4 linked regions of the Homo sapiens genome follow. The gene in region 4 interacts genetically with the main gene of each other region. Each region holds a gene or a part of one and is shown on either strand. Other genes may lie near its edges. The genes, in order: NAV1, PLEKHO1, GRB10 and CCNB1.

Region 1 (8,085 bases), on a different chromosome or scaffold from region 4:
AACTCCAAGGAGGTTCTAGGGAGCATGGGATGGTAGAGGGGAGGGGATGAGAGGGGAAGAGAAGTTAATGCTCTTACTGAGGAGTAGGTGGAGGAGGCACTGGAGGCCAGGGACAGCACTGAGCCGTGAACTGAAAGAGAAGGAGAACACAAAGAGTTAACAGTGGGTTCCAGGGACAAGGGGTTTTTGGAAGACTCCCTAAGGCAGGAGTTTGGATTGTGATTCTGGAGGGCATCTGGAGCAAACAGAAAGAACAGAGTAGGGAACCCAGCTGGTATCAAAACAGCCCAAAGCAAGGTCTTGAGTCAAGCTAGCCTCCTCTTTCAGCCTACATTCTCTGGCAGCCTGGGTATGGCAGTCCCTTGCTTAGCCCGCTCTGAGGGGCACGGGGTTTCAGAGAAGGGAAAGGAGACTTTCATGGATAGTCATCATCTTATCTTCCCAGTCAGGAAAGCACCTTAGCCGCAGGAGAGGGGAGTTTCTCATCAGAGTTGCTCAGAACAAATACTGAAATTCTGCCCGCGCCTCCTCCTCTCAGCACTGGGGGATGTGCTTAGGATCTTGGGGATCATTCAGATGAAAACAATATTTAAGTGAGGAATATGCATTCTGATTATTCAGTAGAACCTATGGTGAGAACTAAAGCATGTCTGTAGCAGATGCCTCCTGGAATGACCATCTTGAAAATAATAATGGGAGAGCTAACCTGCCATAAGCCTGGTCTTCTAGCTCTGATCAGTACTAACACCCAGATCACCACCAACAATCAGATGGCCCTCCCTGATGCTCATCTTTGGAACATTTTTGAAAGAGAAATGAGATGCCTAATTATTTGTAAGGATTTATTAAGAGCTACTATTATGTCCTGTTTTCTTTTCATATATTTGAGAGACTGTGGGGAGGAAAGACTATGGCTAGAATGAGGAGGAGAGAAGCTGTGGTTTTCAGAGCATCCTGAGGGATGCCATTTAACCCTTCCATGCTCAATTTCCCTCCCCCAGCCCCAGTGATGGATGCTCCATCCCAATGCCCCAGTGCTAGATGTGCCACCCAAGGTTTCTGGGTCCCCAGACCCTTCAAAGGGATGGGGAGAAAAAACTGAAATGGCCCAACTTGATGTTCTGTGAATCATATATGTGTGTGGTGGTAGGAGTGGTGGGAGTGGAGGTGGTGGGTGAGGGGACCCAGCAGAGCTGGAATGAGCGTGAACCGCGCTAGCATGAAGTCTCACCATCGTCCGTGGGGTCTCGGAAGGATCCTGACCGAATCATTCCCTTGGGTCTCTCGGCCAGGGACAGGGTGCTCCCCATTTGGGAGCCGCTGTACAGCTCGAAGGCCGCCTCGTGGGTGGGGATGCTGTTGGAGCGGGTGATTCTTGGCGTGGTGGCCGCAGTGGGACTCACTGGAAGGACAGAGGGAAGGGGGACAGGAGAGGGAGCAGGAGGGCAGGAAAAGAGGCAGGGTCATCAGCTCTCCGGGCCCTTGGGGGATGGAGCACCGGGAGCATGAGAGGCAAATGGGGAGAGGGCAGGAGAGGAAGGGGCAGGTGCGGTGGTGGGAGTGTGCAAGCAGCTGGTGGTTAGGAGCGGGGTCCCTCCTGGGGAGATCAAGCCCTAATGGAGAAGGACCCTGCTGTCTGGAATAAAGACCTTCCCTCAACCCTGCCTGCCTCAGAGTTGTTGCTTTTGAAGGTTAGGCTGGGGGCCTGGCAGCTTTTCTGAGACCTTCACATCACTCGGATGTGCTGATGAAAATGAGATGCTGTGGTTCTCTAAAACACAACTGCCAGCTCAGGAGGACTGAAAATTCAAACCAAGACCCAGATCTGAATGATGAAAAAGCACCAGCTAGAGAAGGGGGCTGGGCTACGGGATCCCGTTGCCCTGGCATTGTGGAAGGGCGTGAGAATCTCCCCACAAAGTAGTGTCACTCTGAGTGACTGGGTTGGCGCTAAAGCATCAAGAAACATGGCCCTCTTTGCCTAGCATTGCCCCGGCTTGAAGGTCAGATGGACAGAGCAGGTGAAAGTGTCAGGTAAGGCTTGTGGAATGTGCTTTGAAGCTGGGTTCAGCTGAATCCCGTTAACCTGCAGATGCCTTACCCCTTTGCCCATTGCTGGGATTACAGCCTTTCAGGGTTTCATACCCACAAGGAGCTCCCTTGTCTATTCTTCTGCCTCCATACAGGCAGGTGGATGTCTAATCTGTCCATAAAGACCTGTGCAGAAGAAGATGGCACACCTCTCTGTTGACCTTTTCAAATTCCTGAGGTAATTATTGCTTAGCCCAGCCCCTCATTCTGCAGCATAAATGCAATTCTTCTTATTTGGTCTTCAATGGAGATAGAGAACAAGCTGGCCCCATCCTCCATTTAGTAGCCCTTCAGAGGGCAGATGATCCTGTCTGAACAATGGTTCTTTTCCCTAGGCCAAGTGATCCCAATTCCTAGTCTTTCCTCAAATTCCCCACAGTCACTGCATGGGTGTGTTACAGGTCCTTGTCTTTTATTAACTGATTTCTTTTACTCAGCTGAAAGAAGAGATGGATTTAAAGAGATGCAGCAAGCAGATAACAGGCCTATCCCAGGCACTATTCCTGAATGGATTCCTAGTAGGCCAATCATGGCGTACTGCTTCACAGAACCGGAGCTGGTGTGCTTCTGTGCTAGGCCAGACCCTCCACCTGATGCTTCCTCTCCTCCCTGTCTCTAAGTCACTTCCTTATTTCCTAGCTCTCCTTTCTCCCTAGGCTTTAGGAAGGGGGTGGCCAGGACACATCTGAGTCAGCCCTGCCTTCAGCGTTAGGATGGCCTGGGCTCAGCCAGAGCAGTTGAGGAATCTGGACTTGGCTGAGTTTGGAGGCAGATCTCGTCCTTGGCAATCAACAACCTTTCCCTCCTTCCTCCCCGTCGGCCTGACATTTCAGTATTGCCCTCTCATTAGCTGGCCCTAGTAGTACTGGGTGTGGTGGCTCCTTTCCGGCAGTTCAATGTGCCTGCTCTTGCACTGGTCTGATCTCTGGGCTTTGGGTTACAGCTTTTCCATGCCACCATTCAGGCTCTCTGATGCTAAAAGGACCCTACAACTTGTGCCTAGGGGCAACTTTTCAGTTTAGGATCTCAAAGTACTCTACCTTCAATCTTACTTTGGGTGGATAAACTGAGGCACCATGAAACAACCCAATACAGCATGAGTCAAACATGAGATGAAACCCAAAGCCCACCTGCCTTGCCTCACCCTGCAGGGTGACCCCTGCTTCACCCCATGCCACAGTGAGTGACTGAAAACACTAACCTATGTTGGTAAGTTGGCCCTTTGCACTCAGAGACATGGGAAGTGCAGGGGGAGAAGGCAGCTCTGACTGGTCATCGGATTCAGGCAGCCCACCAATGGTATGGGAATGTCGCCTCTCCTTGGTCTCCTCCTGGGACTGAAGCTGGTACCTGTAGGAAGCAGCAGAAGAACTCAGTCTGGGACTAGCAAGTGCGGTCAGAGGTTTAGTTGGTGCGGAGGGTGTCTGAACTAGGCTGGAGCCAGGAGATTCTGAAAGCAGGACATGGAAAAGAGGGAGTGGTCAGGGCTGCCCAAGGAGGGAGTAAGAGGTGGCGACTCAGCCTCCTCTCCCAGACCATCCAGAGGGTGTGGAAGGACTAGCAGGTATTCCCGTAAGGGTTCCTGAGCTGGGGGCAGAAGTGATGGAGGAGGCATTAGAACTTCTCCTCAGAAGTTCAGGACAGAGACTTATGATTCCACATGTGGGCTTTCAAGTTGCAAGAGTCGGTCAGGCACAGTGGCTCATGCCTGTAATCCCAGCACTTTGGGAGGCTGAGGTGGGTGGATCACTTGAGGTCAGGAGTTTGAGACCAGCCTGGCCAACATGGTGAAACCCCATCTCTACTAAAAATACAAAATTTAGCCAGGCTTGGTGGTGCACACCTATAACCCCAGCTACTCGGGAGGCTGAGGCAGGAGAATCGCTTGAATCTGGGAGGTGGAGGTTGCAGTGAGCTGAGATTGTGCCACTGCACTCCAGCCTGGGTGACAGAGCGAGACTCCGTCTCAAAAAAAAAAAAAAAAAAAAAAGTTGCAATAGTTGCCACCCAACTGAACAACTCAGTGCTGTCAGAACAGTGGATGACCAGGTAGGTCCTGCCCCTAGCCCAGCTGAGTGACCAAAGAAGCAGACTGTTCTCCCTCATACTTTTAGGGAAGAAAATTACAGAGATGAAGCTCAGCCAGGATTGGGATGGCATAGGCTAGTACAGGTAAGTGCATGATTCCCATGTGCAAACTTGTTTCTCCCCTGTCACCAAAAAAAGAACACTTGCTGTAAAAGTTGACTCACATAATATTAAGCTTGGGCAAGGTACTAGGTGGTACTTGTATGGGACCACATACAAATGATTCAGCTAAAAGGGTGACTAAATTCATGACTGGAGCCTTGGACAGGTTGAGATATGATTTTTCATACATACCAGCAGTCCCATTTATAGGGAAGAAAAAACACATTAAAGGGTTACCTGAGCCCTTTCTTGGGAAGAGTGTTCCGATCCCGCTGATTACTGTGGAGATAAAAAAAAAAAAAAAAAGAGAGAGAGAGAGAAGCATGTGGGTCCATCTTAGGAACTAGAGTTTAGGACCATTGGTGTGAGGTATGCAGACCCTAGACGCAGGACATCAAACTATGACCTGCTTTAGCTCTAGAAACCAAGAGATACTATAGCCTGCTTCTTGGCTTACAACTTGGGAAATTTATCTGAAATATTAAATGTTATTTCTCTGATTAGAAATTAAGTCATGGTTAGGCCGGGCGCCGTAGCTCACGCCTGTAATCCCAGCACTTTGGCAGGCCAAGGCGGGTGGATCACGAGGTCGGGAGATCGAGACCATCCTGGCTAACACGGTGAAACCTCGTCTCTACTAAAAATACAAAAAATTAGCCAGACGCAGTGGTGGGCGCCTGTAGTCCCCAGCTACTCGGGAGGCTGAGGCAGGAGAATGGCATGAACCCAGGAGGTGGAACTTGCAAGTGAGCCAAGATCGCGCCACTGCACTCCAGCCTGGGCGACAGAGCAAGACTCCGTCTCAAAACAACAACAACAACAACAAAAAACAAACAAACAAAAAAGAAATTAAGGCATAGTTAGTTATTTAAAAGATCATATTATGGCACTAGGGACAGTGGCATGAGCCTGTAGTTGCAGCTCCCGGGAGGCTGAGGCAGGAGGATTGCTTAAGCCAAGGAGTTTTGAGTCCAGTCTGGGCAACATAGTGAGACCCCATCTCAAAAAAAAAAAAAAAATAGATCGTATTATGGTAGGTAAAAACTACCATATAGGTAGTTTGATAACCTTGGCATATAGGGGGAAGGGAGGGGAAAACTAGGATGTGATATAAAAGAAAAGATTCTGGGCAGCCAGGTGTGGTGGCTCATGCCTGTAATCCCAGCACTTTGGGAAGCTGATGTAGGCAGATCACTTGAGGTCAGGAGTTCAAGACCAGCCTGGCCAACATGGTGAAACCTGGTCTCTACTAAAAATACAAAAATTAGCCGTGCATGGTGGCAAGTGCCTGTAATCCCAGCTACTTAGCAGGCTGAAGCAGGAGAACTGCTTGAACCTGGGAGGCAGAGATTGCAGTGAGCCAAGACTGCACCACTGCACTCCAGCCTGGGCAACAAGAGCAAAACTCCATCTCAAACAAAACAAAACAAAATGATTTTGGACTAGGAAGCAAAAGCTCTGGATGATAGGTTAACCTAATTATGAGATCTTGGATGAGTCATTTAACTTCTTTGTGCACAAGTTTCTTCATTTTTAATATAAGAATAATAATTTAAAAACAAAAACACATCTTACCTATCTCATGGAGTTGTTGTGAAGCAAATTAAATTACTTAATATATGTGAAAAAATGTCAAAAGTCACAAAATGGCAATAAAATATAGGATAGTATTGCCAATGGCAAAATGAGCCCAAGACACGGAGACAGGCCGAGGTTCTGCTGTCTTTTCTACCTACCTGTCCAGTTGCCCAGCTCTGGGGCTTCCACTCCAAGTCAGCTCTTCCGTCTCTTCTTCTGTGGGAGCAGCAGGGGGAGCAGGTGGGGTGGGGACGGGAGTACTGCTGGGGAAGGCACTGGGGAGGCTCATTGGCATCTGGAGGGACTCCATGCTCCTGTGCAGGCCTGAGAGTTTGGGGTACATGCGGGTCTCTTTTGGCACACTGAAACCACTCATTAGCTCCAGGCCCTGGGAGAAGCTGGCTGAGTTAATATTGAGGATGGGTGCCGGACTGGGGGTGAAGCAGGAAGGGAGAGGGCCCCCAGATGCTGAGCTTGTAGCATGCAGATCTGGGACCTTTGAAGCATGGGTGGTATCACTGGATGATGGTAGATCCAGACTGTTGGAGTTGACCTTGTCAAGATTGGCTAGTGAGGGTGGTTTGACAAAGCTCTTCGCTGTGGCCCTGAGAGAAGATCAAACGAAATATTTAGAATAATAGAATTACAGAGTGAGAGGCAGATAGGACCTTAAAGAAATCCTATCCAGTCTTGTTTTCTGCCTATTTGCTAAGCACAGAGGCTTATCCTAATGCTGTTGTGAAATACAATGCAAGGAAATCTGATACCCAACTTGGGGCACATTCAGCTTAGATAAGGGGCCAGCATATGCACATGGGAGATACAAGTGAATTTATGCAAATAGGTATATATGTGTAAATAAACAGTAAAAACACCCATACAAGTGCTGAAGACAGGGTAAGCATTGATCAGAGAATAGTACAAATGAGGTAAGTTTTGAAAGAGGGATTCAGTCTTTCAGAACTGTCAGAAACTAGATTCTTTCAGAACCTTGGCATATGGGGGAGAGGTGGGAAAGAGCCATGCAAAGGCCTAGAGACAACGGTGGATAGGCCATGCCTCATCTAGTCCAAGGAGGGCAGAGATATGCGAAAGAATGACAAAGCAAACAGACAAGGAGGCGGCTGCCCACATTGGGTACCTGAGAGGGGTTGGTGGCAGCTCTGCCAGCTTGGTGGCTGTGGGGTGGCTTGCTTGGTTCTTGGGAGTACTTTCTGGGGAGCCAATACTCTTCAAGGAGATGTTGTCTGAGTCCAAGGCCACTGCCTTGGCTTTGGCCTTCTCCTTTTCCCGATCTGTCTGATTGACAGGGGCTGGAGTGGTCCGCCCACTGGCTACCTTGGTAGGCTCCTTCAGTCTGGAAGGCGTAAGGCCTCCCTGCTTGGTGCTGAGGAGACTGGGGTCAATGCTGCTGCTCACAGGGCGAGGTCCACCCCGCCCGCCGGTCACGCTCATAGAACTTGACTTGGCTGGCCGGGGCAGGCTGCGGTACTGGATGTTAGAACGGGCTCCAGGAGCCAGGAATCCTGGCTCTGCACTGTTGGAAACATCTAAGCTAGTCTTGCGCCCATTTACTGGCTTGACAGGGATGCCTGAGGACTTCTGGATCTTGCTGAGAGTGGCTGAACCACCAGTTTGCATGACAGTGGCTGTGCCTGTGGCAGGAGGAGGCTTCTTGTAGCCAAAGGATCCCGAAGTGGAGGGGCGAGCAATGCCCGAGGGGGGCTTCTTAGCATCACTCAGGCGGTCCCGACCAGCATCAGAGGAGGAGCGTTGGAGCCCAGTATTCTTCACTGCAAGCTTACCCTTGTCTGTAGCTTTGCCCTCAGGTTTGCCTGCAAGAGGACGGGAAATGAGAAAAGAGCTGAAACTGACCAGTATCTTAAAAACCCACCCTTTTCTTTCCCTCCATGGGAGAAGGGAACATTGTCCATGTATTGTAGACTTTTAGAGGCCTAAATTTGGGTAAACAGGTACAAGATAAGCTGATAAAGTTTCTTGTCTGAAAGACTCTGGCTGGGAGGGGTGGGGAGGCTAGGAATTTTTTTTGTTTTGCTCCCAGAGTAGAATGGTCCATTTTGATTAAAAAGGCAGAGGCAAACACAAAGATGATCAAGAATATCCATCTAACAACTAGTTGTGGAAGGGAAAAAAAAGGTGGGGAAGCAAATGGAATAGAGTATGACAATATCTCTTAGTAATTAGAGACTACAGGAAAATGTTGAT
Region 2 (8,085 bases), on a different chromosome or scaffold from region 4:
CTTTGTGGCTGAACAGGTTAAAGGGTGGCCTGCCTGGAAAGAAGGAAATGGCTACAATATTCTCAGGTGAAATGATAAAAGCCAGCAGGAGAGCAATTCAGGGAATCTGAACCAAGATTGCTGAGAGAGAAACTGAGGGGAAGGAGTTCTCCCCTGCCCCCTCCAACCCTGTCCATGTTCCAGCAGCCAAGGTGGCAGGAGAAACATACCGTGTTACCGGGCTGTTTGGAGTGGGCAAGAGTAAACTTGCTATGATTTTTCTTGCTCCTGCTCTTGGACTTCCGGAGCTCTTCACACTTCTCATAGTCACTCAGGTCAAATACCTCTTGAATATTTTTCTCATCTTTTACCTAGGGGAGGGTTGGGGTGAGGTGAGGAGGATAAAATTATTTAGCCCCTCCACCCAGACTGTTAGTTTAGATCATCTTGGGAAACAGAGGAAGCCTGAGGAGAGGGAGGCACGCCAGGAGAGGAGAGGGCCGTCTGCCCAAAGCCTACAAGGTCCTCACATCGAGGAGGACGCTAGGGCAGCTCCAAGTCTTGAATGTTAAGGTGTGTTTCTGTTTAAACCCCTTCTCTTCACTCTCCTTAGCCAGGCTGCCATTTCCAGAGTCCCACTATGCCTCTCTTCACCAACCGCCCCACTCTTTTCCTTAAGGACACAGCTTACATGTTCTAAAAAGGCTCACGTCCTTAAAGGGACATGGTAGATGGTTGATCCATTGCCCTCAGTAAGACAGACCTGTATGGCCCTTGATGGTCCACAGAAAGAAGATCAAGGCAGGGCCAGTTATCGGGGTGTCTGGAGGGAACGAGGGGCGGTCTCTGGCCTCCCCACTCACATGTGTGCAGTATAGCTCTCCCACCCCACCTCGCTTCCTTCTCTGGTATGTACAATTATAGAGACTCATCTTCCTTGTTCATTTCAGGAGCATCGCCACCACAGGACGGCAGCCCCGTGTTCAGTTTGCTGAATTTGTCCAGAGAAGCTGAAAACTACAATTACAGTTCCTACCCTTTCCTCCTCCCTCTAAGGTACTGTGACAATCCAAACTAACTCCTCCAGACCCCCTATCTCTAGGCAAGAATGCACTTAGACTCTCCCTGGGAGACTACACTTTAGACTTGGAAAAAAGTGACTTCTGTGACTTCTTGCCATTATTCCAGTTTGAGTGCCTGGGCCCCCTTTACTGCCAGGAAGCTCTTCCTCCTATCTAAACTTAGCCCTCCCTGCTATAGTCTCCGTCCCGCACTCTGGTTCCACCTTTAGCAGGTTTTAAGCAACATTTAGCTCTTAGCACTCCTGCTGAACGTCTCATCGAGGCCGCATTCCTAGTGACATTCTCCAACCCCAACTAGCCTTTTCTGAGCACTGCAAAGCAGCTCTAGGAACATTTCTTCGCAGGTTCATCTGAAACTGACCACAATGTTTTCTCTTTTCCCCTAAGGTGGTGTTCCTACAACTCTGGGACTCTGAAGCAGTGGCTTATGGATTTGTTTTGGCTAGCAAGGACCAAAGTTACAGAGAGGAGACTTAGTTACAAGTCCAGACCGTGCAGTCTGTCCACCCTCCGTGGCTTGAGCCCAGGGTTGGAACACCTCAGGAAAAACCTGGTCACGTTTTCCTGGAATGAGAATTAAAAGCACCAGCACTTGTCTCATTAAAACTAAACAAACAGATAAAAGTAGCCTCACGTCTTCCTTGGATGACATCTACCCACCCTGACTGAAATTATTTTCCAAAACAGTCCCCAACTTCCCAAGTTCTGAAATAGGACTCGTGTGCATGGAGGTGAACTCATCTATCCTCCTGGTTCCTGGAAACCTGGAAGTGGGGAAGTGGTTCTCCCTTCCATTACCCAGACCATCTACAGTCTTGTATCTGCCCATCCTTCTGAACTGCTGCTGGACCTGGAGGCTGATGACAGATGAGGACAGATGTCAACATGGCCCCATTCAGGTGAGTGACGCCTCATACATCTACCTCCATTTGTTTCAGCAAGGCTTGGCTCCTCCAGGGCCTCCCACTTTCCAGGGTTCCCTGGCTTTGGGCTGGAAAGTGGCCAGAGGCCTTGAATGATTACGGGTGGAAGTAGGACAAGGTGCTGGCAAGGGGTGTCCAAGAGCAATTCCCAGAAACACGGGACAGGGATACAAGATGATGCATCATCCCTCCTCTCCCCCTCCTTCTCCAGAGCTGAGACTATCAGCAGAGCCCAGAAACCGTGGAGAGGAAAGTGTTGGGTGTGTGAATGTAGCCAGGGGAAGAGAGTTAACTTACTATGTTTTCCTTAGGGGAAGGGAAGGAAAGGGAGTTATTCTACCTTGCATACAGACTGATTAGGAGCTCTGGGGAGCAGGAGACACTGATAGAGGTTAGCCCTTGGTGGAGAGGGTGGGAGATGGGGTGAGGCAAGCAGTAGGACAAGTATATTCCAGTGCCTGGGAAGATGGACAAAGCCAAGCAGCCTTGTTCTCCACCATATTGTTTTTTTTTTCCCCACATATCTAATTCCCAGAGTCTCATTTATAACTACCCATCTTCCAAATTAACCCTTCCTTTCCCCTGATTCTTCGTCCTTGACTATAGAAAGGGATTTTTCCCACGCCTGTCCAAAGAGTTGCCCCGAATCCAATTTCCTCCACCATGAGGTCTTCCTAAGGTCTAGCTTCTGTTCTTACACATCAGCCTGTGATCATAAGGTGCTCCAGCCCTCTTTGAGAGAGGATGCCCTTTGAGAAGGAAGAAAATGATTACTATCGAACACAGAAGAAATTCTACGGCAGAGGTGGTTGTGGGAGACCCTGCCTTTAAGAGAGGAAATAACAAAAGAGACTGGTGAAAATTCTGGGAGATAGGGTTAGAAATTTTCTTGCATTAACAGTAAATGATATAGATTATACTCTGCCTTAAAAAAAAAAATCTTGGTCAGGGACTGTGGCTCACGCCTATAATCCCAGAATTTCAGGAGGTTGAGGCAGGAGGATCACTTGAAGCCAGGAATTTGAGACCAGCCTGGGAAACATAGTGAGACCCCATGTCTACAAAAAATAAAAAAAATTAGCTGGGTGTGGTGGTGCATGCCTGTAGTCCCAGCTACTCCGGAGGCTGAGGTGGGAGGATTGCTTAAGCCCGGGAGGTCAAGGCAGCAGTGAGCTACGATTGTGACACTGCACTCCAGCGTGGGCGACAGAGTGAGACCCTGTCTCTAAAAAACAAAACAAAACAGAACACCGTGTCTTGATTCTATTGGCCCTGGAGCTTTTCACAAGTGGGCAAAATAAAGCCCAGAGTACTCTGTCAATTTCACTTTTTAACCAGGCCCACTGTAGCATTGAAACTGGCTCTAAAAAAGCACAGTATCAATATGCCTAGTCCCTCTTTCCTGTGCCCTTCCCAGCAGGAGACAGCTGGCTCCATGACCAGTCAGATGGTCCTGACTCATAGGACACCAGATATCCTAGGCTGAGGTCATTCCATCCTTTCCTCTGTCTCTGTACCTAAAAGCAAGGATCAACTACGCTTTTGCCCCCAGACTCTGCTCTTTGGGCAAATACAAACAAGCAATGGATGTCTTATTCCTCTTACCCTTTCACTATTATGTTTTTCTCTTTGATGTGTAGGAAGTTCTCCCTGATTCGTAACTAGAGTTTCCTGCAATTAAGAAGTTCGGGGAAGACAGGAGATACACTTTGACACTTGTTTTTTTTTTTTTTTTTTTTTTTTAATTTAGAAAGCCAGAAAATTGTGGAGAAAACTTTCTGGAGGATTTGTGATTGGGCAGAGGTAACTCTTAAAAATAAATCCTCCTGGCCAGGCACGGTTGGCTCACACCTGTAATCCCAGCACTTTGGGAGGCTGAGGCGGGTGGTTCACTTGAGGCCAGGAGTTTTGAGAGCAGCCTGGTCAACAACGCGAAACACTGTCTCTACAAAAAATACAAAAACTAGCCAGACATGGTGGCACCCACCTGTAGTCCCAGCTACTCCAAGGATGAGGTGGGAGGATCACTTGAGCCTGGGAGGTGGAAGCTGAAGTGAGCTGTGATTGAGCCACTGCATTCCTGCCTGGATGACAGACCAAGAAAAGTGCCCTCACCTCACTCCTAAGACTTTCCATCACCAACTTGCTAGTTTTGTGTAAACAGCTAGGTTTCAATACCCTTAAGAGGGATCTCTTTGGCTGTGGCACAGCTTAGTTCTTCCCTAGATGCCTCAGTAGATGTTCTTTTAGATGAGTACTTTGTCTCAGGGTGTGTGTGTGTATGTTTCAATACCATAAAAGGTTTTATTTACCTAAATATAATCTACTGAATAAGGATGTCTACTGCAGAAAGCAGAAGAGGTTAGAACTCAGGGAGGACTTCCCAGTTAGCCCTGGGTGAGGGAACACAGAATACCTCCCGTGAGGGCGGGAGGAAGGGCCACTCTAACCGGTACACAGGACAGTCTTCCAGGCTATACTGACTGCCTTTGGACAGTCACAGAGGCAGGGAATGGAATGACTTCTAACCACTGTAGGGGCAATTCTGATTTCTCCACATTAGTACACGTTATTGATCCCAAGACTTAGGGAAAAAAGGGAGATGGGTCTGGATTCAATTATCATAGCTCAGGTCTTGACACAGTGTAGACTGTGGTTTTCATGGTTAACTACACAGCCAAAGCTATCCAAAGACATACAGGGGTTCTTAACTCCATTTCTCTCCCTTCTGATACAAATGGAGGGGTGGGCAGGAAGTGGGTAGAAAATGGGTTCCTTGCCTTTTTTAAATGGGGTGGGGGTGGGGAACAGAGAGCATACTGGTTAGGGACACTGGCTTCAACGAAAATAACTGCCACTCACACACCCGAGGTCACAGGGGCCTGACGGCGGGGTGCGTGTTTTCTGTGATTCAGGGCGGATGCGCCACGGACAGGACCTGTGCACGCTCCTGCCACAGACAGGAAAGGGGAGGCTGGCTGGGTTAAGGTGGGGGGACAGGAAGGGGTGGCGAATAGGCTAAACTGTTTCAGCAGAAATAGAAAAGAAATCCTATATGCAGGAGGCCAGGTTAGGGTGGGAGGCAGCAAGGGACACTTAGAACTTCTGGGGCATCTTGGGAGGGGCTTATCGTTGTTAGAAAGGTATTTGCAAACAAAAAAACACTGAGTAAGCGGCCAACTCAACTTCTAATTCTCACTCTGGTCTTCTCATTAAAGGGTGGCCTTTCTCTGCAGATGAGATGGGGGTAGAGAGGAGACCACTGAACTTGCCTTTGGAACAAAACGGGGGTGGAGTAAGCTAGGCGAGCCCTTGGGGAGTGACAAAGTGGGGGCTATGAGAAAACGGAGAGTTAGAGGCAAGAGGCACCCACCTCCTTCTCAGAGATGTAGAGCTGGTCCCCTTTCAGCACCACATAGCGGTTTTTCCAAATCTCCCTGAAAATCCCTTTCCCGCAGAATTTCCGGACCCAGCCGACCTTCTCGGGCGGTGCAGGCTGCTGGTTTCCATCCTGAGGTCCCTGCCCCAGGACAAGATGAGAAGCGGGCGGTTAGGAGATTCCAGCCGGCGCTTCCTCTCCGTCCGTCTCTCACGACCGCCTCGGCGGCCCAGTCTCCTCCGAAGGCTGCGGCCGGGGGGCGGGGGGCCGCCCCAGGTTCGCTCCCACTTCGGAAAGGTTTTCACTCCGAGGAACTCCCCCCGCTCCCCTCCCCCGCTCCCGAATAAACAACCGGGGCTGCAAGTGGCAGGGGCGCCGGCCGGGCGCGGAGAGGCTCCCAGGTTCCCTCCAGGCCCTGCGCCCCCGCCGCCCCGTCCTCGCCGCGCGGGGACTAACGGCGTTTCTCTGGTTTTCTCTCCCATTGTCTCCTCGCCACGGCGGAGCGCGAGGCAAACGCTCGCCCGGCGCCCGGGGGCGGGGGAGGTGCGGGTCGTGGGGAAACTCAGCCAAGTTGAAGCCCCCCGAGGCGAGTAAACAAACAAAAGCCCCCGCGGGCGCCTGGCGGGGCCGAGGCCGAGGGGACCGGGCCGCCGGGGCGGGGGCGCGGCCGGGCCGTGGGTCTCCCAGGCCGCCGCGGCGCCGACGGAGCGGGGGTCGTCAGAGCGCGGAGGCGGCGGCGGCCGCAGGGCGGGCAAGCGCACTCACCCGCTTGGCGGAATTGTTCTTCTTCATCATTCCCAGCGGGCGCGGGCGCGGGGCGGCGAGCCGAGGGGCGGCCCCGCGTCGGGGCCTCGGCGGCACCGCGGGGGCTCCTTCCCCGCGGGAGGGCGTCGGAGCTGCCCCGGCGCCGCCGCTCCTCCCTCGCGCCCTCCCGCTCCCGGACTCTCCCCTTCTTTGTAGCTCCGGTTTCACTCAAGGCCGGCCTCCCTCGCATTCGCACTCGCACACACACGCACGCCCGCTCCCCGCCCCTTGGCGCCCTCCATCCCGGCGCCCACGCGGCCCGGGTCCCCGAGCGCACCCCCGCCACCCGCCCGCCCGGCCCAGCGCGGCCGCTCCCCCGGCCCGGTGCGCTGTGGGCGGCCCAGTCCGCACCCCGCAGCTCCATCCGCGGGCCGCTGACGTTGCGAGTTCAGAATAAAGGGCGAATCGCGGAGCCGCAGCTCGGGCGCTCCCCCCGCCCCCCCGCCTTTGTTTCTGACTCACGGAGGGGGAAGAAGGCGGCTTCGAAGCGGCTGGAGACCGCTCCCCAGGGGGCAGGGACCCTCGCTCCGGCGGCGGCTCGGGCGACACGCGGAGCCCGAGAGACCCGGCCGCCGGCCGCCCCGGGGCCCAGTGGGCGGGCGCGGTGGATAATGGAGAGACGTGCGGATTCGTGAAGACTGGAGATCGCCAGCCTCTACAGCATCGCCTTACCCGACCAAAAACAAAAACGAGAGCGGGAACCGGGAGGGCGCGCCACCCACAACCCGCATCAGGAATTCACGCTCCTAGGTGCTAGGGTGGCCTGGGCAGGTCAGATGCTGGGGGAAAGTTTTATGCTCCGGAGGGGATCGACGTGTTGGGGGATGGGGTGGGACAGAAGTTGCTATTAATACACGTTTCTTCCAGCGTACAATGCCTCAGGCCTTATTGTAGCTTCAGGAGAATAATCCTAAGGATGAGGCGGATTTTATGATCTCCATCTCACAGGGAGAAAACGGAGACTCAGAATAGCTGAGGGATTTGCAGACACAGTGTCGATGCTGGCTTTTCAGACACAGTGTCAATGCTGGCAGGAATAGAACTCTGTCTCCAAACCATTATCCTTTCTACCAAGTGGCTTTCAATATAAGTTCCAGGTGAGGCTTAAACTTCCTGCCACCTGGGTATCTTTTCCCGCTATACTGATAGGTAAAAACCCCACCCTCTCTACAGCGCTGGAGCCCAGTGGAGGGAAGGGCTGAACGCCCAGAGAATGCCCTGACTAGAGAAGCCTCTGCTGATCCCTCCTACAGCAGATCTGCCTCAGAGCCTCCAGGACACATCTTAGTAACTTCATGTCTTTTTAATATATATACGTGTGATGGAAAAGGGGAGTGAGAAACCCCGCGCTTGGGTACTGGTTTCATCACCACTCTGGGCTTTGGTCAAGTCACTGAATTTCTTTAGGCCCGCGTCCCTCCACGTATTAAGTGGTGAGGGATGAACTGCCATTTTTATCAACAAGGAAAGCTAGGGGAAGATATGAGATGACCTCTGAGAGTCCTTTGAAGATATGTGTTGTCTTCCAGGGCTAATTTTGAAATCATAATAAGCTAATAAACACATTGCCTGGCATATGGCAAGCATGCAGTAACCACAAAATGAATAAAAATCCCTGGCACTGAGGAGCAGGGAAAAGGAAAAATCATTTTTCCAGAGATGTCTCAAGATAAAAGTGTTGGCTAGATTTGTGGTTTGAATAGTGGAGGCTCTTTTGACTTTTTCTGGTGTCTGTCAAATGAAGGAGGGGCTCCCTCTCTTTTCCAGTTCCACCTTTCCTCCTAATCCAATGATATTCCTCTCAACTTCTTTCCATTCACCATACCAATTAATTCCACGATTTTAGACTGACACAGAACTTTATCCTTTCAAAATGCTCTTATATGTCATTTCTTTACACTTTTAATGCCACCTTGTA
Region 3 (8,085 bases), on a different chromosome or scaffold from region 4:
GTGGCAGAGGTGCGTGGAAGTGCCTGGGTTTACTGGCTCCAGATTTCCATGCTTCCACCAAGGGTCTGACCGGCCCAGGTTTGGAACCCATAACACGTTGGACAAACTGCTCTCAGGGCTCCCCCTGGCCAAATGCTGAGCAGCTGCAGGGCGGGTGCCACCCCACGTGGGGGTAGCAACGAGCCTGGGTGGGACCAGGGAGGTGAGACCGACCCTGCACTGCTTCTGTAGAAGCACCTGGGCAGGACCCCAGACCCAGAAGAGGAAGCAGAGCCTGGGCAGGGTGAGGAAGTTGAATCCAGGGCAGGTGAAGGACAGCCAGGCAGGAAGGAATGAGTGGGCTGTCAGACGGTGACATCCCAGCACGTGGATCTCCGATCAGAAGTAGCCCCCTTTGCGCCGGTGTACGTCTCCCCCACAGCTGGAGGATCACAGGTTTGAAACTCAGCTATTCCCGCCAACCCAGATGACTCAGGCAAGCCCCATGGGTACCCTTAGCAAACTCAGCACAGCACTCAGGAAGAACCTGGCCAATGCAGGGTCACGAAGCCAGGGTGCAGTCATCGTGGAAGAACTTGGTAAGCCTGCCTGGGGCTGCTGCATGCTCTGGGATCCCCAGGGAGAGGACGCAAGGCAGCTGGGGAAGACCTCCCTGTCCTTCTAGATAGAATAATGGCTGCTCTCTTTTGGCACATGCCTGCCACGTCTTAGACTACCAACTACTCCATCCTGCTTCCTCTCAGATAGCTCTTCACTCTGTCACCATCGTGCTAAGCTCACGAGAGCAGGGCCCACTTTGCGGTCAACCTCTTGGTCTCAGGGTCTGGCAAAACACCCGGCCCGTTGTAGGGGCTCAAGGTGAGCGAAGGCAGAGAGCTCAGAGGGAGGCGGCATTGGAGGAATCGCGTGCTGTTGAATAGGAGGCTGAGGGCTCTTCTCTACCCATGACTACTCCCATGCAGAATTTTCCCTCCCCTCCTTCCTTTCATCAAGTCCCATTGGCCCGTAGCCTTTACAGGGCACTGAGCTTGTATCTTACATGTCTAGAAAGGAGACACACCAGAGCTGCAGGTGGAACTCAGATCCGTGAGGGCCCACAAATGCTGCAGTGAGACCACTGCCACTCTCCCACCCTGTCCCAGCACGCGGGCCAGGGGGCTCAGCATGCTGTGAGGAGCGCCAGGTCCACATCATGGTAGTTGCTTGCTCTCAGACCTGGGGTCTCTGGACACCAGCATCTGATCTCTTATCACATTACGGAGCTACCAAGGAGTCACTTAAAAAGGAGAGAGGCAGGGCCAGGCGCAGTGGCTCACATCTGTAATCCCAGCACTTTGGGAGGCCGAGGTGGGCGGATCACAAGGACAGGAGATCGAGACCATCCTGGCTAACACGGTGAAACCCCGTCTCTACTAAAAATACAAAAAATTAGCCGGGCGTGGTGGCGGGCGCCTGTAGTCCCAGCTACTCAGGAGGCTGAGGCAGGAGACTGGCGTGAACCCAGGAGGCAGAGCTTGCAGTGAGCCGAGATTGCGCCACTGCACTCCAGCAGCCTGGGCGACAGAGCGAGACTCTGTCTCAAAAAAAAAAAAAAAAAAAGGAGAGAGGCAGAAGAAAGGTACTAATGCCTGTGTGGGAATTTCAGAAGGCTTTGCCTACAAAGCTTGGGCAAGAATGATTTTTCCTTTCTCATGGAAGTTTAAATATCTCTACTTTTTCCTCCCGTTGCCTTCTTCATGAATCTGCTATTTAATAGTGAACATAATGACATGAATGAGGAAGTTTCCAATCACCTCACTATCCCATTACCTTCCATAGATTTCGTTATGCTTTCTTCTTTTCCTACGTTAACTGAGTTCTTCCCTGTGAGCAAAGCCACTTTATGTATCGGGTCCACTTTGTCAATTTTTCTACTACTTCAGAATCCTTGACTAGACCTTGGTCTCAGCATTACTTCCTCTGACTTGAATGAAGGGAAGAAGAACATCAGATTTCTCTTTTCCTCAAGCAAGGGGCAAGGAATGGAGCCAAAGCTCTTTGCCCAGCACCATCCCCCACCGTGATCCTAGATCCAAAGCCCTGGGAAGTGGCTGGAGGTTGTCCAGCACTTGCTACCGACTGCACTGAGAAAACACACTTTTCATGAGATCAGAAGTCAACACCAAGTACAGATAAAGAAATATCCCTTCAAGCAAGTCGGGAAAAAAAAAAAAAGAACAAAGAACAAGGACTTTCTACAAGTAGTTCTAGTTCTGAGTGAGAAACATCCTTCCTGGTCGTTTCTGTGGGCTTGAGGACACGAGTGACACAGACACCAATGCCACGTTCTCATGGGGAACAAGCTCTGATCCCAAGAAAAACACCAGCAGGCAAAATTCCCCGGTTTCCTTGTTCTGCTTACAAATTTGGACAATCCCTGGGGGTGGAGGCCAATTTTCTTGCCAAAGGCTGAGAGAGCCAGATAATATTTTCATGGTCTTATTTTAGAATGGGTAGCTCTGTAAACAACCTCAGTGACAAAACCCACAGACAGCTTGTCTGGATCCTTATTTGAAGCAGAAGGTCACCAGCGAGGTAGACATCCCAGATGCACTTTAGACATGTGACAAAGTGCACAAGCCCAGCCAGTGCTGGCTCCCAGATGAGGGACACTTACCTCACCTTCTAAGTTTTGATAGTGCCATAATGCAGCCTGCTCCGGGGGCCTGAGGTCAGAACGGGACCCACACTTGGGAGCCAGCGGGTATTGGAAAAAGGTCTCTCTCTCAAGAGGACAGACCTTGCATGGCACAGGACAGGCAGATTTGCAGAGAAAGGGATGGCTGGCCTGTCTTGCTTGAGAACAGCAAAGGTAGGGAAGTGAGAGCAAGTAGGGAGAAGAGATGATTCAAGTAGAAGGGCAAAATGACTTCTAAATATGCATTTAGCAGAAGGAAAGTCAAAGTCCCGGGAAGCCAATCAGCACAGTGGCTGCAATCACAGGCTCCGATTCTGAGGCCGGGTCACACTCAGCCGCACCATCAGGTCTCAGCCACACTCAGCTCAGCTGCTTACAGGGGCCTCCCTTCCCTCAACTGTGGAACAGAGGGAACATGCGTACTTAATTCATACGGGATGGCATGAGGAGTAAATGAACATATAAATAAACAAAAAATAAACATATCCACCACTTACGACAAGGCCTGGCACACAGAAATCCCTCACTCCATAAACATCAGATGGCGCAGTTGTTCTAATGATCACCTCCACCCCTAGGGGTCTTCCTCCAGAGGCTGCAGCCCATCCTGGCTCACAGCCCTGCCAACCGGTGGGGAGGAACTTTCAACCCCTTTCTCTGCCAGTTTCTCTGCTAAGCTGACTTGTTGGCTGTTTGACCTTGGACACATTACTGAAATGCTCTGTGCCTCAGTTTCCTCATATGGGGACAATGGTTGTGTCCTATCTACTTCATGGATCTACTTTAAGTAGAAACTACAAGTTCAAAAAGGAGGTTATTGCCCTGCGGGTCCAATGGAAACTCTTCTGCTTTCGGCAGATCATATTCAAAGTCAGGACTACAAGACAGAAACTCTTCAACTCCTGTGTACTGACATCCAGGTGCCCGGGTGAGCCCAGCATTTTCACACCTATTATTGAGCCAGTGGTGAAACTTTTTCAAAGAACTAAGATTCATCTTTAAACATCAAATCATTGTTATTATTTGCCATTTTTTATGAGACTTTTTCTAAAATATAAAGATAAAACAGAGTTTTGATCAATAATGAAAAGAGGTTTAATTGGTTCATGGTTCTGCAGCCTGTACAAGAATCATGGTGCGGGCATGTGCTCGGCTTCTGATGAGGACTTAGGAGCTTACAATCATGCCAGAAGGCAAAGCAGGAACTGGCGTCTCGCACAGCAGGAGTGGGAGCAAGGGGAGGAGATGACACGCACTTTTAAACAACCAGATCTCGTGAGAACTTACTATTGTGAGGACAGCACCAAGCCATGAGGAATCTACCCCTAAGATCCAATCACCTCCCACCAGGCCCTGCCTCCAAAATTGGGGATTACAATTCCACATGGGATTTGGAGGGGACAACATCCAAACTGTATCGGCCTCATAGGACAACAAGTACTGTGACAACAAGAAAAGAACTGAGAGAGAAGATCCCAGGACTTCCCGCCCTTCTTCCCAAAGTAATAATCTGGCACATCTGTGCAGATCCCAATAATCTGGCATATCCCTCAGCCTGGGCTCCAGCCAGGGGCACACTCACCTGCTTTGCGGCGGCCTGGCTCGGAGGTAAAGAACCCGGCGTGAGCACAGGGGGGCTCCCAGGGCCACAGAGTTCAGGAAAAGGATTGGGGATGGCCGGCAGAGATGAGGTTCTAAACTGCTGGTCTTCCTCCTGAAGGCGCCTGGAAGGCAGGGATAAGTGCCTGTTAAAAGCTGCCATTCCCCACATGACCCAGCCTTACCACTGTGGTGATACACCCAGAAAGCAGGACACAGGGCTTCTAGGAGTCACTGGCATGCCCACGTTCACAGTGGCATCCTTCACAAAAGCCAAAAAGTAGAGGCATCCCAAGGGTCTGCAGATGGATGAATGGATGAACAATATGTGGCATATCCATACCATGGAACACTACTCAGCCATGAAAAAGGAAGCACATTCTGACACAGGCTACGACACGGATGAACCCTGAAGACATTATGCAGAGTCAAACACACCAGTCACAAAACCAGAGACACTGTGTGATTTCACCCAGTGAGGTAGGTAGTGTATTCAAACCCATAGAAAATAGAAGGGTGGCTGCCAGGGGACTAAGGGGAGGGCAATGGGGAATCGCTGTTTATTGGGGACAGAGTTTCAGTTTCATAAGATGAGAAAGTTCTGGAGATTGTACAACCATTGTGAGTGTGCATTAATACTACCGAACTGTACCCTGAAAAAAACAGTTAATATGGTAAATTTTATGTTACATGTATTTTACTAAAACGAAAACTTTAAAAAAATTACAAGTTGTCATTCTCAGACCCAAAGGGTATTGGGTATCAATTCTCTTCTTCATTAGGCATCGGGGGCGGGGGGCGGGGTGCCGAAGTTTTGTTGTCCTGGGTGCGTGCTCATCTCAGGCAGCATTCAGTGCCTGACATGGCATCAGCTCCAAATACCTCATCCGTTTGATCAGTGAATACCTGATGTGTGAAAGTTTTCTGAATATGAGCATTTTCATGAGAACCAAGTGTTTTTCAATGTCCTTGAAATGAGCATTAATCTAATCAAATGAAAATACAAGAAAAGGCTGTGTGTTCTCATCTGAATTATGCAATGGATGGTTACTTATATAAAAAGGTTGTTGACACTGAATTAACTGGAAATTATAGCTTCATGTATCTGTCCTCGCAAAGCCTGTGTCCACATTAGAAACACACCTTGGAAACACACGCTGAATCCACACACCACCTCTACTTTCCTGGCACATCTCCAGGGGCATCTGTTCCCTCCTCCGAAAAATGCACAACCCACTTGTCACACAACTATGCAACACACACACAGTATGACGAATCAGAAGCAACTGTGAACAGCAGAGAAATCAAGTTCAAAGTCAAAGCGAATGTCAAGTGTCTGGCACCTCCCCTCTGTAGAGTAACTTCTGGCCCACACCTCCAGGGCACTCCTGGACACACAGCCTCCTCCACCCTTCCTGAGGCCACGCGGCCCTGTCTGCAGCCTCCTACCTTCAAGGAGAGGGGAGCAAACCTCACATTATCTTCACTCGGCATTTCCAATCCCTCCCCATGTTTAAACATACCTCAGAAACCCCCATCATAGGCTGTGTCCTCAAGTAATTTTTTTGACAATTTTTACGATTTCACAAAATCAACAATCCGTTAGCTTTCCCAGGAGATTTGCCACTACAGAAACACATTTTGTGACTGTATTACTTTTTCTCTTTTACCAACTTTCCCTATTTTTTAAAGGAAGATCCAGCTAACTATCCCACGTAGACCAGCAAATGATGCATGGATTTAAAATTACGAGAACTCACATGGCATGAAGGGAATCAGTGCTGCGAAATACAGGAAAGCCGTTCCTATAATGGTTTGATGACATGCCATAAAGTTTATTTTTACTGTGAACAAATCCCACTCTTCCCATAACAGCTTCAGCCTTGGCAAGGCGTCCAACTGAAACGTCTGGCCATTGTCATACAGGAGGAGATGGATAAAACGGGTGGCCAGTGCCACTTTCCCATCCACGGCTTCTAGCCAGTGACTTCACCCCAAAAAGATAATCTGACGTTTTAGTGTCCACAAAAGCTTCTCTATTTATTGGGTTGTTTTGAGCATTTTAAAAAGTCCTGTGTTGACTTTAAAGCGGCTCAGAGACATCGCCTAAGGCAAGACTAAGGGATATCACACAAAGACAAAAAATCCCCACCAAAGAGGCTCACAATAGAAGGGACAGTGACTATGGAGAGGGGTGCTGAGATTTAGGGATGTCAGGGATGGTGGCAGGAACTGCAGAGCTGAGGGGCGAGGTCCTTCTTCTCTGTGCCTTGGCTCACTTGTGTTTGTCTAGAACACATGCGTGGCCCTTGCACTCTCAAAAGCCTGGGTTCCTTCTCTGTACAGAATCGGCTCACCCATCGGCTTTCCTATGTGCAAAGCCTTCTTGCCCTTCCCAAGTGTCTCCTCTGCCCATACCCTGCCTGCCCCCCAGCTCCCTTCGGGTTGCATGGCAGCCCCCGGTAAGTTCCTCTGCAGCGTGGACCATGCTCCGTGACCTCTGGTACCCAGCAGCCTGCTCCATGGCCACTTCCCACCTGATGTGGTGAGCCCAGTTACCGCCCCGCTGTGCCACGGTTTCCTCAGCTGGGAAGCGAGGGTAACCCACACTGCCTCCCTCCGAGGGCACTGATAACAAGGAGGAGCTCATCAGCATCTGCACACAGTAAGCACTCAGCAAATGGCCTCACTTCACAAAATAATCTTTGGTGATTCCAGATTGATCTCCACATTTTTTTTTAATCCACCTGAAAGTAAGAAACAAAACTACTTATCTGAGAGGACACCAGAGAGAAGACATTGGGCCCAAGGAACAGCACCTGTGACCCTGTAGGGAGAGGGCTTTGCTGTCCCACAGAGCAAGCCTGCCCCTCCATCCCAGGGACTTAGCGCAGGTAGTCCCGGGGCACATATGGGCGAGTTCAGCCAGAACTCGAGGTTCAAGGGTCCTGGGCAACTACTCCAGCAGGGAGGCAGGCCTTCTGGCTTTCCAGCCCACCCTCGGGCACCTTCGCCATGCAACTGCACCTCCATATTCCCAGGCACTCCCCAAGGCTACTGTGATGCTCCCAAGAGATGCTCCCAAGAGAAAAACAGCTCTCCCACCAGACTTAACTCCTCAGGAGCTAAGTACAAGGGGTCACGCTTCAAAGAGCAAAGTTGAACAAACCCTGGGACAGGCATCATTCAGCATCAATGAATATGACAAAAAGTGAGAAGTCGGAGGGGAAGCCGGGGTGGGAAGCTGGGGAGGCAGCTGACCACGGGCGCCAGGGCCGCTGCACCCTCTCCCCTCCGTAAGAAACAGCTGCCACCTGGGGCAAGGTGATTATCTGGGCTGCGGAAGACCCAAGATGTCAGACCACAAAGAAAACTCTCAGAAGTTTCTAGAAGCAAGAAGAGCCCAGGAAATGAACAGAGCTCCCCGGAAGATGGGGTGCTGAGACAGAAGGCACCAGAACCCCATCCTGACAGAGGCCAGTGAGGGCAAGGGGCAGTCCCAGCAGAGATGGCTGTACATCCTCCGCAAAGGCCCAGAGAGGCACGCAGGGTCCCACGGAGCCCCACGCCATCCCGACTGCGACAGGGCAGACAGGCGGATCCTTGAGGGCTGCCCCTGGCTCTCAGCTTGATTCTACAAAGATCTTCATTCAGAATGTCTAAGGTACTCTCAGCACCTTCACCTTCGACATGACCATTCTCTAGACACCCTCCTCCCAGGCACTCGAGACAAAATCCAAGTCACCCTCCACACACTCTCTGTCTCCTCACAGCCCTGGCAAAATTCAAGTGCTGGCAAAACGCAGCTG
Region 4 (8,085 bases):
CATCTCAGATCTTTTCACTTAAGCCTCTAAACTTAGAACCTGAGCTTTATGTAGAGAAAATATCAGTAACTCCCAGGGCAGCTGGAACCCATGTACTACAACACTCCTGCCTGCTCCTGGGTTAAATCCCAACAGCAACATAGCTAAGAACTGTGGGGACAACAGTGACTTTATTTTAAATACTAATTCAATGTGACTTCTGCCTATTCACTTTAAGTTTGGCCTTTCCTCCAAAACAGCCCTTGATATTATTGTATACATTATAGGCTGTGATGTCTGCAGCATTCTGTCAGCCACCCACACATTGATTCTAGAGCATGTATACTTTGCCCAAGAAAATGTATACATACCCAAGCCGTGGGTACGAGGGGTTACAGTGCAGAGATCTACATCTTACAGCCATCAAAGACCATACTTATGTCTGTAAATTCCCCCTCATCAGTCACCCAATACCAGCAAACTCCATTTATCTGCCTAATTCCTTGGTTTCTCAGCTCCTCTGCCACTTGAGGGGTTGCTTTGCATAAATGGCCTTGCACAGAACAAGAACGAAGCATCAAGAAACAGCACATTTACAGGCTGGGCGCGGTGGCTCACACCTATAATCCCAGCACTTTGGGAGGCCAAGGCGGGTGGATCATGAGGTCAGGAGATTGAGACCATCCTGGCTAACACGGTGAAACCCCGTCTCTACTAAAAATATAAAAAATTAGCCAGGCGTGGTGGCGGATGCCTGTAGTCCCAGCTACTCAGGAGGCTGAGGCAGGAGAATGGCGTGAACCCGGGAGACAGAGCTTGCAGTGAGCCGAGATTGTGCCACTGCACACCAGCCTAGGTGACACAGCGAGACTCTGTCCCAAAAAAAAAAAAAAAAAAAAAAGAAACAGCACATTTACTAAATTGAATCCTCCAAAGTTAGAACACAACTTTAAAAAGCACTAGAAAGATGGAAGAAGAAACTAAAAGCAGAAGGCTGCTCCTGGCAAAGAAGTCTTGCAGAAGAATCCTATAGAAAAAGGAGAGGCCAAAAAGGAGCAGGCAAGAGATGAACATGTCAGTGATGACATAAGACAACACATTAGAAACAACTGGGGGCTGGGTGCGGTTGCTCAGGCCTGTAATCCCAGCACTTTGGGAGGCCGGGATGGGTAGATCATCTAAGGTCAGGAGTTCGAGACCAGCCTGGCCAATATGGTGATACCTCATCTCTACTAAAAGTACAAAAATTAGCTGGGTGTTGTGGTGGGCACCTGTAATCCCAGCTGCTCGGGATGCTGAGGCATGAGAATCACTTGACCCGAGGCGGAGGCTGGACTGAGCCGAGATTGCACCACTGCACTCCAGCCTGGGCAACAGAGCAAGACCCTGTCTCAAAAAAACCAAAACCAAATAAAAATACAAAAAATTAGCCAGGCATGGTGGTGTGTGCCTGCAACCCCAACTACTTGGGAGGCCGAGGCAGGAGAATTGCTTGAACCCAGGAGACAGAGACTGCAGTGAGCTGAGACCGCACCACTGCCCTCTAGCCTGGGCGACAGTGTGAGACTCCATCTCAAAAAAACAAAACAACAACAACAAAAAAACTACGTAAATGTGGTAACAGTATAATTTATGTTACTATGTTTATGCTGCCATAAAGAGTGCTTGTATTTGTAGGGAAAGGGCAAATGCCATTAATAGAAAGTTTCAAAAGTGGGATCAAATTGAAGTGAACCAAAAAAGTAGCTTTTGAGTGTACTCCTTTTGGGCACAAATAATTTCACCAACAACTGGATGCACATCAGCCACACTAACACAAAATGCCTTGTGTTAGGGGTGGCTGTAGTCTTTGAGTATATTCTACATCCTCATCCACTTCCTGACCCGTTATCACCTAAAATGCAGAGTTTGGGACTTAACCATTCCAAACGTGGTGGAGATCGCATATATACATATCAAATTCAATCTGTGGATTTTCCTTTAGAAAGCGATAGTAGTATCCACCCTAACTTCGAACTTTCCTGCACAAAGTGACAAATAGACTCCATTGGTTTATTTAGTGACTTTTTATTATAGGTATTCCATGAAGGAGAATTTGAAAGTGCGATCTCTTAAGAAATGCTGCCCACGTCCTGCTTGTATTATTATAAACTATTGATGGAAAATACTTTCATAAAGTTAGATGCAGTTTAGAAAAAAAACGAATGATAATACTTACCTCAAGTTGTCTCAGATAAGCATAAATATCTTTCACATATTCACTACAAAGGTTTGGATCAGCTCCATCTTCTGCATCCACATCATTTACTGCAAGAATTACATCAGAGAAAGCCTGACACAGGTCTTCTTCTGCAGGGGCACATCCAGATGTTTCCATTGGGCTTGGAGAGGCAGTATCAACCTTGAAACAAAGAGATATCTTGAAATAGCAAATAGAAGTAAGCACTATAGTTTGGGCATGAAGTTCAGGTTATTGGTACCAACTCAAGCTAGTATTCTGCTGAATCGGCATACAATTCATTTCCTTAAAGGAAAAGTATCTTTTCAGATTTATTCCATTTCTTTTTAGGAAGTGATTAACATCAAAAGTGATCATTTGGGTTGGGCGCGGTGGCTCACACCTTTAATCTCAGCACTTTGAGAGGCTGAGGTTGAGGCTAGGAGTTCAAGACCAGCCTGGGCAACATAGCAAAACCCTGTCTCTGTTAAAAAAGAAAAAAGTGATCATTTAATTCCTCAATTAAAAAGAATGAGGTTGGGCATAACAGCTCAAGCCAGTAATCCCAGTACTTTGGGTGGCTGAGGTGGGAGGATCCTTTGAGACCATGAGTTCCAGACTAGCCTGGGCAATATAGCAATAACTCATCTCTACAAAAAATTAGCTGGGCATGAAGGCAGCTGCCTACAGTCCTAACTACTCAGGAGGCCCAGGCAGGAGGATCACTTGAGCCCAGGAGTTTGAGGATACAGTGAGCTATGATTGCGCCATTCTACTCCAGCCTGGGCAAAAAAAAAAACAGTGAAATGCCAACTTAGAGTGAGTCAGTTTAAAGTTGGAAGCAAATAAATTCACATTCTAGACTTTGCTGCAAAGGAAACTGAGAAGTAATTAATTTTTATCAGCAACATGTGAAGTTAGTCCAAATAAATGACAATTCAGTCTTTAGTCTTTATTTCATAATATAAACTGCTTCTCACTACTCAACACAAATTCTATCCTGACTACTAAGGATTAACTAACTTCATCGCCATTAACCATTTCCTTCAAGCTCCCTTTATCCCATTGTTCAAACATTTATTGAGCACCTTCTTGAAGTCAAACTCTACAAGGCATTGACTTCATGGCATCCTCAAAGGACTCTGAATTTAGTAGACAAAGTAAAGAAATAAGGTCGGGCATGGTGGCTCACGCTTGTAATCCCAGCACTTTGGAAGGCCGAGGCAGGCAGATCACGAGGTCAGGAGTTCGAGACCAGCCTGGCCAACATCGTGAAACTCCATCTCTACTAAAAATAAAAAAATAAAAAAATAATAAAAAAATTAGCTGGGTGTGGTGGCTGGCACCTGTAATCCCAGCTACTCAGGAGGCTGAGGCAAGAGAATTGCTTGAACCCAGGAGGTAGAGGTTGCAGTGAGCCAAGATCGTGCCATTGTGCTCCAGCCTGGGTGACAGAGCAAGACTCTGTCTTGGGAAAAAAAAAATAAACAAAAATAAGACTAAGGCTGGGCATGGTGGCTCACACCTGTAATCCCAGCACTTTGGGAGGCTGAGGCGGGTGGATCACGAGATCAAGAGTTCGAGACCAGCCTGGCCAACATAGTGAAACCCCGTCTCTACTAAAAATACAAAAATTAGCCAAGCATGGTGGCATGTGCCTGTAGCCCCAGCTACTTGGGAGGCTGAAGCAGGAGAATCACTGAACTCGGGAGGCAGAGGTTGTGGTGAGCCAAGATGGCACCACTGCACTCCAGTCTGGGCAACAGAGTGAGACTCTGTCTCAAAGGGAAAAAAAAGACTGATTCTAGGAACAGGGGGTGGAGATGGGGGAAGTTTGGGAAAGCTTCAGGAGTTGATGCTTGAGCTGTTTTCAAGGATGAAAAGGTTATTAGCTAAATGAAAGACAGGGTGGGGAAGGCATTCTTACTAAGTGGGAAAGCAAAGGTAAGAATCAGTATGGGCCTTCCAAGAAAGCCTCACGTAGTTTGATATGCCCAAAGACTGTGCTGGCTACATATTTCATGTGCTATGCCCAGAAATTCAACACTAAAGCAATAGCTTTCAATCTCTTATCCTTAGATATAAGAAGCTGAACTGGCTGGGCGCCGTGGCTAACGCCTGTAATCCCAGCACTTTCGGAGGCCGAGGCGGGCGGATCATGAGGTCAGGAGTACACTAACATGGTGAAACCCCATCTATACTAAAAATATGAAAATTAGCTGGGCGTGGTGGCGTGCGTCTGTAATCCCAGCTACTAGGGAGGCTGAGGCAGGAAAATTGCTTGAACCTGGGAGGCAGAGGTTGCAGTGAGCCAAGATCACGCCACTGCACTCCAGCCTGGGCAACAGAGCCAGACTCTGTCTCAACAAGTTTTTTTCAGATAATTTTCCCAACTGGTTTTAACTAAGTTTAAAAAAACAGAGCTTCAGAATACAGTTCATTGCAATTTCATCAAAGCAGCCTCCTCTACATGACCTACCTTTCCTTCACAGGTAGGTCTATCATAGAATACATTTACATACCTTATATTTAATAAAAAGTTATTATTTTTGAGGCTAAGTGTTAATTCATCTTCTTAACCACTCCCTGAAAAGTTGCCTTCTTCCTGTTTTACTCCTTTGCATATTCCAATGTTACAGGCTTATTATTTAGTAGCCATATGCAGCAGTAAAAAAATTCAAGAGAACATTCTATGTTTACGCCAATAAATTCTGCAGAGATGGCTTGTAGTTGGATAACAAAGCCTTTGGCTCAGACAGCTACTACTTAATATCATTAACGAAGGAATATAAGACAGTTGACAATTAAAAGCATAGATTCTGAAGCCAGACAGCCTGAGCTTGAATCCCATATGGGCCACTTACCTGTGTGACCCTGACATAACCTCTCTAAAGCCATGATTTAAATAGTAGAGGTGACAATACCTCAGAGAGTACGTGTAAAGATTATGTGAGTTAATGCATGTAAAATGTTAGGCAGAGCTTGCCTCATGCTAAGCACTCAATAAATGGTATTAATATTACTATTCATTTGAATGCTCTTGCATGTATCAGTGAAATAAGGGACAAGAAATAATCAACAGACTCTACAATGGTAAGAATAAGTTTACCAAAATAGGCTCAGGCGAAAGTTTTTCTTCTTTAACAGGCTCAGGTTCTGGCTCAGGTTCTGGCTCTGGCACTGGCTCAGACACTGGCACTGGCACCAGCATAGGTACCTTTTCAAGAGGTTTTGGTAGTTTTTTATCAATGACTTTTCCAGTAGCTGAAGGTTTTGCTTCCTGTAGATGAAACAGAGAGAATGAAATGTTTCTGCATCAAAGGCCACAGTTGGAAGGCGGGCTCTTACAGAAGTTAGGTCAGGAAGAGAGTTACCTTCTTCATAGGCATTTTGGCCTGCAGTTGTTCACTGACTTTGTTACCAATGTCCCCAAGAGCTGTTCTTGGCCTCAGTCCGGGCTTGGAGGTTGCAGCAGGGGCCGTAGGAACGCGCTTTGCGCCTGCCATGTTGATCTTCGCCTTATTTTCAGCATTAATTTTCGAGTTCTGAAAGAAGCAAGACCACTTTAAGAGCTGATCCACGAAGGCTCGAGTAAGTCAAGGGTTAATTAAGGTGGGGCACAAGGAGAAGTTCCCAGAAAGAAAGCCGACTAAAAATGGGTTCCGAGGGAAAACATGGGTCCCAGAGTCTACTCTGCGGCCGTGACAAGTCAGTTTCCGCCGACCTCTACATTTACCAATTGAGGGATTCCCTGATTAGTCCTGGCCAGCCCTAAAATACCGAGAATTTACATTTGAAAGGAAACCGAAAAAGCCTCCAATTGCAGACACCTTCTCTCTGGGAAGGGGGTTACAGAGTTGCTGGCGGGCCCACTCAGGGACCCTCTATCACTTTTTCAAAAGGTTCCCAGTCGACTCTCCACCTCCCCAAAACATTTATCCAATATCCGTCCAGTTCTCTTTCTCACCTTCCTCCCTCCATCCATCGTCCCCCACACTCTCTCACCAGGCCTGGGCCCACCTCGGCGCTCTCTTGGTGAGTCCCCTCCCACCTTCCTCCCCAAATCGCTCCTGCGGCCCTCTCCCGCTCGGGAGGCTCCCGCAGGCGAGGCAGGGAGAGCAGGCAGCAGCTAAGAAGGCCGCGTTAGTTCGCAGTCCGAAGCGGCTCACCCTGGTGACTCGGAGCGCCATGGCTTCCTCTTCACCAGGCAGCAGCTCAGCGGGGAGAAGCAGAACACCGGAGGCCCGACCAGCCAAGGACCTACACCCAGCAGAAACCAACAGCCGTTCCGCCGCAGCACGCCGAGAAGAGCCAGCCTAGCCTCAGATTTAAACCCCGCACTGCTCCCTCCTTATTGGCCTGTTCGTGGCACTCACTCCCTTCCCATTGGCGGCTGCCGGTCGCAGAGAATGCGTTTCCAGGGCGATCGCGCGAAGGCGTTCGAGAGGGGCGGGGCCACAGTGAGGCTAGGCCGGAAGGCCTGGCCAGGCTCTCACGTGGTCTGCCTCTGCGCCTGCGCTCTCGGGCAGCTGCAGCGGCCACCTGGAGAGCAGTGAAGCCAGTGCGCCGCCCACCTGGAAAGGTTAGCCGGGCAAGAGTGTGCGTTGCCAATGCCAGCTCAGGAAAGGCCTAGTGGCCTTTGGAAGGTGACAGAGGCGCGGCCACAGTCTCAGAAGTGTCAAAAGTAGTTTTGGATCTAGTGTTGCACACTTTCCATTTCTACGGTAGCAGCAATAATATAGTTCATGAAAGGCTTTAATAGACATTCTTTCATTTGATCGTTGCAACAACTCTCTGGGTTGGAGGAACTGAAGCTCAGCGACTTAGATGACTTTGCCAGGGTCACACATTAGCAACGGGGGAACTGAATTTAGGGTTTTTTTTTTTGAGGGGGAGGGAGGGGGTGTATCCGTGTTGTTTTCACAACACTGATTGTCCCTTAACAATATTACTTGATTACTTCAAGATTGTCCAGTTTCCCAAGGCCAATTGTTTTGTTTGTTTTAGCTTTCTATTTGGAAATAATTTCATACTTAGACCAGTTGCCAACAAAAATCTTGTAAGGAATATTTCTATGCCCTTTACTCAGATTCAACTATCCTTAACATGTATTTGCCTCTCATGGGAAAATCAGGAAAAACTAAACAAAAAGACATTTTACCCCATTTGCTTTGTCATTTGCTCAGATTCTCTCTAGATCCAAAGAAAAACAAGAGGGTTCTTTTTGCCTTCTACTCCTCAAAACACACCAGCAGCTCAGCAATTGGAGGGGAGGCTGAAGGACAAAAACATTGCTATCCCATAGAGCAACGGTATAAGAGCCAATAGAGACTCCTGGCGCTGGAAGTCACGGATCCGAAAGAAGGCGCCCAATCATTTGGTTTCTTTGGATCGTTATTGAGTCTTCTGTCATCATAGTTCACCCTCCTACTCGAATGCCTCCCGTGGGGCCCTTACCCTTGCTCTCCTCTGCCTGGAATGCCCGCCTCTTCTTGCATTCAAGCCCCTGGGTTCTATTCAGGTAACTCCCATTCATCCTTCAGTTCTGTGTTCAACATCCATTCTCACTCAGTCTTTCTGGGTTTGATCAATCCTTCCTCGCCCCATGCAGGGGCGAGAGGCAAGGGGCGAAGCAGGATTACTTATCCTCTGTGTTCCAGTTTAAAAATTTTTTTTTTTACTTTTTTTTGAGACGGAGTCTCGATCTGTCGCCCAGGCTGGAGTGCAGTGGTGCGATCTCGACTCACTGCAACCTCCACCTCCAGGGTTCACTCCATTCTCCTGCCTCAGCCTCCCGAGTAGCTGGGACGGCAGGCGCCCGCCACAACGGCCGGCTAATTTTTTGTATTTTTGGTAGAGACGGGGTTTCACCATGTTAGCCAGGATGG

Evidence for each region.
Region 1: changes in CCNB1 (region 4) and NAV1 together harm fitness more than expected from each alone (negative genetic interaction), as found in Homo sapiens cells (one study listed by BioGRID).
Region 2: changes in CCNB1 (region 4) and PLEKHO1 together harm fitness more than expected from each alone (negative genetic interaction), as found in Homo sapiens cells (one study listed by BioGRID).
Region 3: changes in CCNB1 (region 4) and GRB10 together harm fitness more than expected from each alone (negative genetic interaction), as found in Homo sapiens cells (one study listed by BioGRID).

What each region holds. Positions count from the first base shown.
Region 1 is NC_000001.11:201,781,785-201,789,869, reverse strand, and holds part of NAV1 (neuron navigator 1), read right to left. Parts: intron 7,695-8,085; coding exon 7,001-7,694; intron 6,465-7,000; coding exon 6,018-6,464; intron 4,561-6,017; coding exon 4,519-4,560; intron 3,442-4,518; coding exon 3,293-3,441; intron 1,403-3,292; coding exon 1,232-1,402; intron 131-1,231; coding exon 78-130; intron 1-77. UniProt on the Homo sapiens protein: May be involved in neuronal migration.
Region 2 is NC_000001.11:150,148,331-150,156,415, reverse strand, and holds the start of PLEKHO1 (pleckstrin homology domain-containing family O member 1), read right to left. Parts: upstream 6,501-8,085; 5' UTR 6,159-6,500; coding exon 6,129-6,158; intron 5,820-6,128; exon of another isoform or gene 5,505-5,819; coding exon 5,358-5,504; intron 351-5,357; coding exon 210-350; intron 1-209. UniProt on the Homo sapiens protein: Plays a role in the regulation of the actin cytoskeleton through its interactions with actin capping protein (CP).
Region 3 is NC_000007.14:50,665,463-50,673,547, forward strand, and holds part of GRB10 (growth factor receptor-bound protein 10), read right to left. Parts: intron 4,402-8,085; coding exon 4,260-4,401; intron 1-4,259.
Region 4 is NC_000005.10:69,165,565-69,173,649, reverse strand, and holds the start of CCNB1 (G2/mitotic-specific cyclin-B1), read right to left. Parts: upstream 6,501-8,085; 5' UTR 6,388-6,500; coding exon 6,367-6,387; intron 5,743-6,366; coding exon 5,572-5,742; intron 5,478-5,571; coding exon 5,307-5,477; intron 2,381-5,306; coding exon 2,198-2,380; intron 1-2,197. UniProt on the Homo sapiens protein: Essential for the control of the cell cycle at the G2/M (mitosis) transition.